3 separate regions of the Homo sapiens genome follow, and regions 1 and 3 are each linked to region 2. The links come from fine-mapping of genetic effects on gene expression. A gene starts in region 2. Each other region holds a variant in brackets. All regions are shown on one strand. Distances are between the middles of the regions. Region 1 overlaps LOC124901774 (a long non-coding RNA gene). Region 2 holds the start of GIMAP6 (GTPase, IMAP family member 6). Region 3 overlaps LOC107986860 (endogenous retrovirus group K member 19 Env polyprotein-like).

What was found. PIP is the estimated chance that this variant, and not a neighbour inherited with it, causes the effect. A credible set is the group of variants that fine-mapping cannot tell apart.
Region 1: its variant is the best candidate, but not a certain one, in a credible set for the expression of GIMAP6 in whole blood (TOPMed, PIP 0.50).
Region 3: its variant is the best candidate, but not a certain one, in a credible set for the expression of GIMAP6 in whole blood (INTERVAL, PIP 0.89).

Annotation. Positions count from the first base shown.
Region 1 is chr7:150,663,676-150,666,442 of GRCh38, forward strand. All of the region lies in intron 2 of LOC124901774 (a long non-coding RNA gene), which reads right to left. Among named protein-coding and RNA genes, the nearest start is that of GIMAP2, 21 kb to the right of the region's middle. RefSeq lists an enhancer at 410-629. The variant TACA/T (reference allele first, on the strand shown) is at 1,579.
Region 2 is chr7:150,630,918-150,633,684 of GRCh38, forward strand. It overlaps GIMAP6 (GTPase, IMAP family member 6), which reads right to left and starts at 1,468. Exons shown (of 3, transcript NM_024711.6): 1 at 1,252-1,468. RefSeq lists enhancers at 879-958, 1,229-1,318, 1,329-1,418.
Region 3 is chr7:150,548,358-150,551,124 of GRCh38, forward strand. LOC107986860 (endogenous retrovirus group K member 19 Env polyprotein-like) reads right to left here. Exons shown (of 2, transcript XM_017012936.2): 2 at 718-1,220. The coding sequence ends at 1,183. Among named protein-coding and RNA genes, the nearest start is that of GIMAP4, 18 kb to the right of the region's middle. The variant C/T (reference allele first, on the strand shown) is at 1,714.

The DNA of each region.
Region 1 (2,767 bases), 33 kb after region 2:
CTGCTTCAACTAAGTGGTCATCTTGCCTACTCCTGAGGAAGTCAGAAATGGTCATTGTTGGGTCTGTCTGAATAAGGCCGTGTGTGGGTCTGCAGACTCAGAGAATAACTCTCCTGTCACCCTTGGGTCAGCACCAGCCTGGGGAGGGTCTACAGAGGGGCCTGAGCACAATTCCGCAAGGTGTCCGTGGAGAGACTCCTCCTCATCCCAGTCTGGCCTTCCAGCCATCCAGAGCACATCCCATGTGTAGGGAGGGGACATGGGCCCCAATTCTAACTCTGTCCTGTGTGGAAACCACACTGTATGTGAAGGCTGAGATAACAGATGGAGGAGGTGAGACAGAAAATGGCTGTTGCAGCCACAGGAAGTAGTGTTGCTGCATTCACAGGTAAATTTACAATAAACAGTCTTGCTTTCATATCTTGAGAAGGTTCTGGGAAATGGGCTCACATCAGTTGTAGACCACAGACCTCCTGGGGACATGCTGAGAGGCACATGAACAAAAACCTCTACACTGTATAATAAAGAGGTACAAACTTCTACAAATGGCAGGTAACACTGGTTTAAGAAAAATGCTGCATTGCCAAAGCAAAGGAAGAACTGAAACTATGAGGAGACATTGTCCAAACCTAAGTGCAAAGCCCTTGGGATGGAGGCGATCCTGACTCTTGAGGCCTTTTCTTCCTGTCCTGACCCTCCTGGGCACGCTTTGCTCCCCCATGATATTGAGGAATAGGTCAGAAACCAGGGGCTTTCAGGGGAACAGTATGGTTTGTGGTAAGGTGAGATAGGGATTGGAACATGAAGAAAGGGGGGCTGAGTGCCCATGTCTCTCAGCACAACCTGCCTCCTTGGTTATTTTGCACCAAGAGGGGGACAAAGCTGACATACTGGCCCCTCAGTCTCTGCAAGTCAACACTGTGTGGAATCTCAGGGGTCAGACCCCAGAACTTCGGGCTTTTACGAACATAGCTCCCTGGACAGGGCACTCTACTCCTCACCTCCCAGGGTTGGCATTGTCACTCTCCTGGTCTGGTCACCAGGTATGGTCTCCATTAGGGATCACAGGTCCTCAGAACCAGCCCTGTGCAGTTCAGCTGTGTTCCCACAGCTCTCTGAGAACTGAGTCTCTGTTGATGGGTCATTTGGCCAGCCTGTGCTAATGGGTGAGTAGAGTTTCGTGCTCACTGGGTAAGGTCAGAAATATCAGAGAACTTTGGATGTTGATGTGGGAAGAGAACTTAAGTCACCTCCCGCAATCCTCACTTTAACCATAAAACAAGCATCATGCCCCCAACCTTCATCTCCTGACCCCCAGGCTGCTGCTCTTTCCATGAGGTGGTGAACTTGTCAGTGGGAGGCACAGGTGCTAGGGTGCTAATGGCAAAGTCCATGCTGATGGGCTCCAGTGGAAAACCAGGGCCTCCATGCTAGCGAGGAGCCCTAGTGATGCAAACACAGTCCTGATGGATGCTACCATGCCACTCAGAGAGGGAAAGAATGAATGTGTCAATGCACCGCAGCAGAGACAATGCTGGGGGAGGCGGGCGGAGAAAGTCCCTACGTAATTTAATGCAG[TACA/T]ACGAGGGCTTTTGGAGTTGATACCCTTCCCTTTGTTAATATCAATATAATTCTCTTAGTAGAAATTCCAGTTTCTATGACAGTATGAGAATGTCTCATGGCCATGAGTCATGCTTACAGGCAAAGGGGCTTTGCAACCATCTCTGATCACTCTAGCCTGGCAGTCTGCCTATGCCCTGAAATGTGCTCCACCACTCAGAGACAGAAATCATTGCCTATTCTCCAGACTGAATGAACTCCTAAAGCCTTTTTTCCCATAGAGATGCTAAACTCAGAAAGGATAAGACCTAAAAGTTGGAGAAGCTGGGAGGTGGCTGGGCCCCAGCATGGTGTGTGCACATGCGTTCTCTGGATGGAGGCAGAGCGGGCTCTGAGAGCAGACAGGCAGGCTCTGGAGTGGCCTTTTCAGGAAAGCCAGTGTCTCTGCTCTACTTTCTGACCTTCAGGACCCACTGATTCTGGGTTCAGCGTGGGACTGAGGAATGGGTGTCCCATGAGGTTGGATATTCCCTAAGGTAGTGGGGCTGGGAGCTGGGATCAGGATTAACAGGACACCATGCAAGAAAGAGAGAGGAAAGAGGGAAGAGCAGTGAGACAGAAAGAGGCACAAACTGACAGTGGGAGAGTGAAGTACAGGGTTTAGGGAGCAAAGGAGAGGCAGGAAAAGGAGAAGAACAGGGAGACTTTCTGTAGCTAGAAGGGACTTCTCTCTTCACTTCTCTAATGAGTCTGTACCCAGCAGATCAAGATTATGTAGCTCAGACCTACCATGTGTGTTGCTCAAGAAGCCATGATCACCTAGGTTACAGTTCACACTTCTTGGCCTGAAATTGACAGCTTTTATATCAGGCTGCAAACTTTCTTCACAGCCCCCTTGCTTCTATTCTGCTACCTTATGAGACTCGCAGCAAGGCGCTTGGGGTAGACAGACTCCATCTCTGATTCTACTTTCATTCTCTGAGTAACACTGGTTGAGTTCCTCATCTTCCTGAGCCTTATTTTTACTTCTTTAGACATGGACATGATAATTTCTACTTCCTACTGTTGCTGTAAGCATTAAATGAGAAGAAGATATAAAACCCAGGGCTGAGCCAGAAAGAATTAAGTAAGCGGTAGCTGTATCTGCTCTATAAGGGGTACCCATTTACTTTTTCTTACCCAGGCAATGCTTGTTTTTACCTTAAAG
Region 2 (2,767 bases):
ACTCCTGTCCCCTTTCCCATGACAGCAATGTGTCCTGGCTTCATAGACTAACACAGTTCTCTGTGCCAAGATCCCATAAGGTTCTCTCTGCTGGATTTTCTCTGTGGGACTGAGGAGGAAGTTGCATGGTCCATGACTGTTTTTCCAGATCATGTAGGACATTCACAACCAGATGAAACAGATCCAGATGAAGGGTCTGGGGTGTGGGGAAACCTAAGTCCAGGGGAACCTGATAGACATGTTTTTCTCATTGCCACATTGTTAGATGTTTGTTCTATTCTGTTCACCTGGCAAACACTCCAGTCCTCCCCAGATCCCAGAAGTATATATGCGGATATTGCTTTATGATTGGTAAAGATCAATTTTGCAGTGCTGGGCTGGGCATGGAGGGAGTCCAGGAAGGTCTGTTGACTTTCTAGGAAGAAAGAAGAAGCAGGCCAGGCGGACAGCCTTACTCAGACCTGAACAGCCAGATTCTGGAAGGAGTACAATATTTCACCTACCAAAGGGAGTTAGTTCTTCCTAACTGGTGGCCTCTCAATCTCTTTGTCCCTGGCTTCCTTACATCCCTGGTGGAAATTGAGGCAGCACTTTACCAATGTAATCTCATTCCTCCTTTAGAGAGAACGGGCAGGCAGCTTAACAGGAAACAACAGCCGGGTGGGACTAGGCTGTGGCATGCAGGAACCTGCACTGTGCCTTCGCAGGGTTCGGGGAATGGGTCTGCACGCAAGGCACCTCCCTGCCTCCTCCTAGACCCTCCCCGGAATGGCACCTCCCATGTTGGCCACAGTGTGCATTGTCTCCAACACAGAAGATGGAACAGATAGTACCATCCTTGTCATATTGCTCTGGAAGAAAGCAAAACTCAGAGAAGCATCTTGCCAAATATTAAACAGTGACTTTGTCACAAGGCAAAAAGTTCTCCAGACGTGTTGGTCACAGCTCTTTTTATCACATTACAAACCTGCACACACCACAGCACACACAAATACACAACACACACACATACACAAAACACATGTACCACTCACACACATGCAGGTGAACACACAAACACATACACAAACACAAATATACATACACAACACACACACAACACTCACATACACACACAACACAAACATCACACACACAAACATCACTCACACACATTCATGTTAACACATACAAACATGTAAACACACATGTACAACACAAACACCCACACATACACATCCAAATATGACACGCACAAATACTCAGACTTACCTCTGCACCAGCTCACAGGCAAGAGAAAGGACCACGTTTCTGGTCTCCCGGCCACGCACTCTCACGGAGGAGGCAGAGAAAAGCTTCCACAGTGTATGAACACAAGGAGGACAAGGCCGATGTTTGCTTATATTTTCAGCAAAATGTTTTCAGAGAGCTGGGCTGGAGACCTGCCCTTGAAAGAGCAGTGTCCGCTGGAGATGGAGGAACAGGAAGTGGGTAGGAGCACCGGCCTTCCTGAGTCAGAAGAGTCTGCTGTTGCACTTTGCAGCCTCGGAAGTAGAAAAAGGGAGGATACCAGTGGTGGGATTATTTTTATCCTGAGCCAGGATAACTAGAACTCAGAGCTTAAAAAGAGGCAGATGCCTCAGAAAGATTTGTGTCAGGAGGAGTGACTTTCCCTGATCTCTCTTTTCTGAACCCCACCTCTTCCCCAGGGAACTTCTATGCCTCAGTATTGGGGCAAACAGTCATTGTCTCCTTTCTTCCCCAACCTCTCCTTCCTTTAATAGTTTCTCTCAGGACAAGGTCTGACACTCATTACCTCTAAGGCATGAATCATTGGTAATTACAATTGTTACAGCTTCTAGAAGATCTGCACTATAAGAAAAGGGAAAATACAAAAGAATGTCTAAAATGTAGGATTAAAGAGAGCACTTGTTATGGGGGAAGAACAATATTTTAAACACAGGCCAAGGGAGAAAACACCTCAGCATCCTCAAAAACATGTTTTCTAGGACTTTACTGACAGATCTGATAACTGTGGCTAAAGGGAAGCCATTGAAGGAAGAAATTCAGAACATAGGAGCATAGGTGATGATATTGTTACCACATGATTTTAAAATGTTAAGATTCCCTAAAAAAATTCCACTCAATCTACTATAATAGTTCTAATTTTCTTTGGTTCTGTTCTGGTTGATAATCATGGTGTATTTATTAAAATTGTTACATAGTATGTGTGTGTGTACATATATATATCTTTTAATGTTCTACTTAAATTATTCTGTAAATACCCTGACACAATTAATTTTTTTTTTTTGAGACAGAATGTCATCCTGTCACCCAGGCTGGAGTGCAGTGGTGTGATCTCAGTTCACTGCAACCTCATCCTCCCAGGTTCAAGCGATTCTCATGCCTCAGCCTCCCAAATAGCTGGAATTACAGGCGTCCGCACACCCGGCTAATATTTTGTATTTTTAATACAGACGGGGTTTTACCATGTTGGCCAGGTTGGTCTCAAACTCCTGACCTCAAGTTATCTGCCCACCTCGGCCTCCCAGAGTGTTGGGATTATGGGCGTGAGCCACCGCGCCTGGTGTAACATGATTAATTCTTTTTTTTTTTTTTTTCTCGAGACGGAGTCTCGCTCTGTCGCCCAGGTTGGAGTGCAGTGGTGCGGTCTTGGCTCACTGCAAGTTCCACCTCCTGGGTTCACGCCATTCTCCTGCCTCAGCCTCCTGAGTAGCTGGGACTCCAGGTGCCCACCACCACGCCCAGCTAATTTTTTGTATTTTTA
Region 3 (2,767 bases), 83 kb before region 2:
CACAACAGCAAAGACTTGGAACAAACCCAAGGGCCCATCAATGATAGACTGGATAAAGAAAATGAGGCACATATATGCTTGGAATAGTATGCAGCCATAAAAAAGAATGAATTCATGTCTTTTCAGGGACATGGATGAAAGTGGAAACTATCATTCTCAGCAAACTAACAGAGAAATAGAAAACCAAACACCACATATTCTCACTCATAAGTGGGAGTTGCACAATGAGAACATATGGGCACAGGGAGGGGAACATCACACACTGGGGCCTGTCAGGAGGTTGGGGGCAAGGGGAGGGATAGCATTAGGAGAAATACCTAATGTAGGCAACAGGTTGATAGGTGCAGCAAACCACCATGGCGTATGGATACCTATGTAACAAACCTGCACGTTCTGCACATGTATCCCAGAACTTAAAGTATAATAAAAATAAATAAATAATTAAATACTTTAAAGAAAAAAGAAAATTATGAGTTTTTTCTTCTTTAATGAGTTGTCAAATAATAAAAACCAAAAACAGTGTTCAAGGCTAGAATCTAATGACAGGTATGTTATAGGTTTCTTTTGAAATACAATTTCTTTCTTTCTTTCTTTCTTTCTTTCTTTCTTTCTTTCTTTCTTTCTTTCTTTCTTTCCTTCTTCTTTCTTTCTTTCTTTCTTTCCTTCTTTCTTCTTTCTTTCTTTCTTTCTTTCCTTCTTTCTCTCTCTCTCTCTTTCTCTCTCTCTCTCTCTGGATCCCTTTTTGTACCAGATACAAATTATAATAAAACTAATTTGTGTGCAAAGTAGATTTTAGTCTGGTTAAATGTGGTCTAATTATTTGCATAAAGTGCAGCAAGAATAACGTTTTGCTTTTTTGATTGGCTTTGTTTGAACTTTTCATAAGGAATCTCTGATTTGAAAGGCCTCTCAAAGCTATTCAAGTCAGGGATTTATCAGATTGCCTGTGATACCCATACGAATTGTGTGAAGTTGTTTCTTCTCAAAGTCCCAAAATAACTTGAGATTTCTGGGCCTGTCATAAAGTGACATTCTTTACTGACCACAGGTCAGGAACCTTGTAAAGCAACTGCATAGAAAAAGTGCCAGGCCAGTCTTTCCAAGAGGCTTCCTTTCGGGTCTAAAAAGTCAACCTTAATTCCTCAAAGTAATCTGGACATATCTGAAAATATGCCATTTCTCTCACAGCCTCGGTAAAATAACAAGTCTCCAATTGATTCCTGTTATAAAAGAAAACAGATTATTATTAAACTTATATAAATAATTATATTGCCATAAATTAAGAATGTTCACAAATAGTTTCTAAATTCTGAAGAAATCAGGTAGAGAGAAAGATAAATCCTTCACATTTTTGCTTATAATAGTATACTTCACTCAATTTGTTGTAAGCTATAAATAGCTCAAAAGAAAAAAGTTTTCTTGACTCTGGAAAACAGAACACAAAAAGAATTAGCAATGTTACAACCAAGGAAGTCATAAAATTATTTCAGTCCTCTATTTGTTCAGTTTTGTGTAAGTAATTATTGTTCTGCCTGATGTTGGGTTAGCAATCCTCATAAATGCACTAGCTTTTAACTGCAGTCCTGAAAGTTTTTACCTAGTCCAATGATATGATCTCCAAAGTTATCTGAAACTTGTATTCAAGAGTACTTGTCAGAGGCCTTTCCATGAATATTCTTAAGGAAGCAAATTTTGAACTAAAATAATTAAAAG[C/T]CACTTTGTGAGAAGAATCAAAGTAAAACAATAATTATATGTGAATGACAAAGGTCTTAGAATAGCCATGGTTAAAGACTCAACTGACAAGAAAATTTGGCTATTTCTGTGGTATACAACAATTTGACATAATAATTACTAGAACATATTAAGACATCAGAATTTTAGAAATCTCATAAATTTTGGAACATATATTAATAATGCATGTCTAAAACTATAACCCAAAGAAAATTAAACACCATTTCATATTTGACAATCATTTCCATGTGATTTTAACATATCAAATAAGCCTAATGTGTCTGTGATTTCCAGGGGCTCTAATATCCAAAAAGTTAGTTTGAGGTCAAAAAGGCTGAGTTAGAATTTGAAAATTTCAATTTTGGAAAGTTTGTCAAATATCAAAGTTTTAAAACATTTGCTCAAGGTTGCCTGCTTCAAGATGGCCAACTAGATGCAGCCAGGAGGAATATCTGCCACCAAGGGATGAAAACATCAGGAAAACTGGCTTACTCCTAGCAGATCTTCAGAGGGAAAGCATTGAAAGCAGATGGAGGGAAGACACAGGTGCTGAGATGAAGGGGGAGTAAGCTCAGAACCTTGCATGGGACTATCACATACTAGGATTTGTTCCTGGCCCCCCACTAGGATTTGTTCCTGGCCCCCCACGACTCCTGTAGTGGAGTGAGTTGAACAGGCAAAGAGCAACCTGCTCTCACCATAGACCTCTCGAATCCCAGCAGGAGGAAACCCCTTGACCACTAGACATTTGAGTTGGCGGGGAGAGCTGTTCACTGAAGTGGTAGAGGCAGAACTCCAGCCAGTGTGGAGCCCAGAGGGTTTGGTGTGGAAGCGTCTGTAGTGGAGTGTGGCCAGGGACACCCATTCCCCAACGCTCCACTTGCCCCCATACAAGACTTTAACCCTAGGGAAACTGTCAGACCTGAAATCTGACAGGATGGTCTTGCCTATGAGACAGGGCCCATCTGACCTGAGCACCCCTTGGTCTGCTGCCCATTCCCAGGGCTCCAGCCTGGCTGTGTCTGCTTGCAGTGCA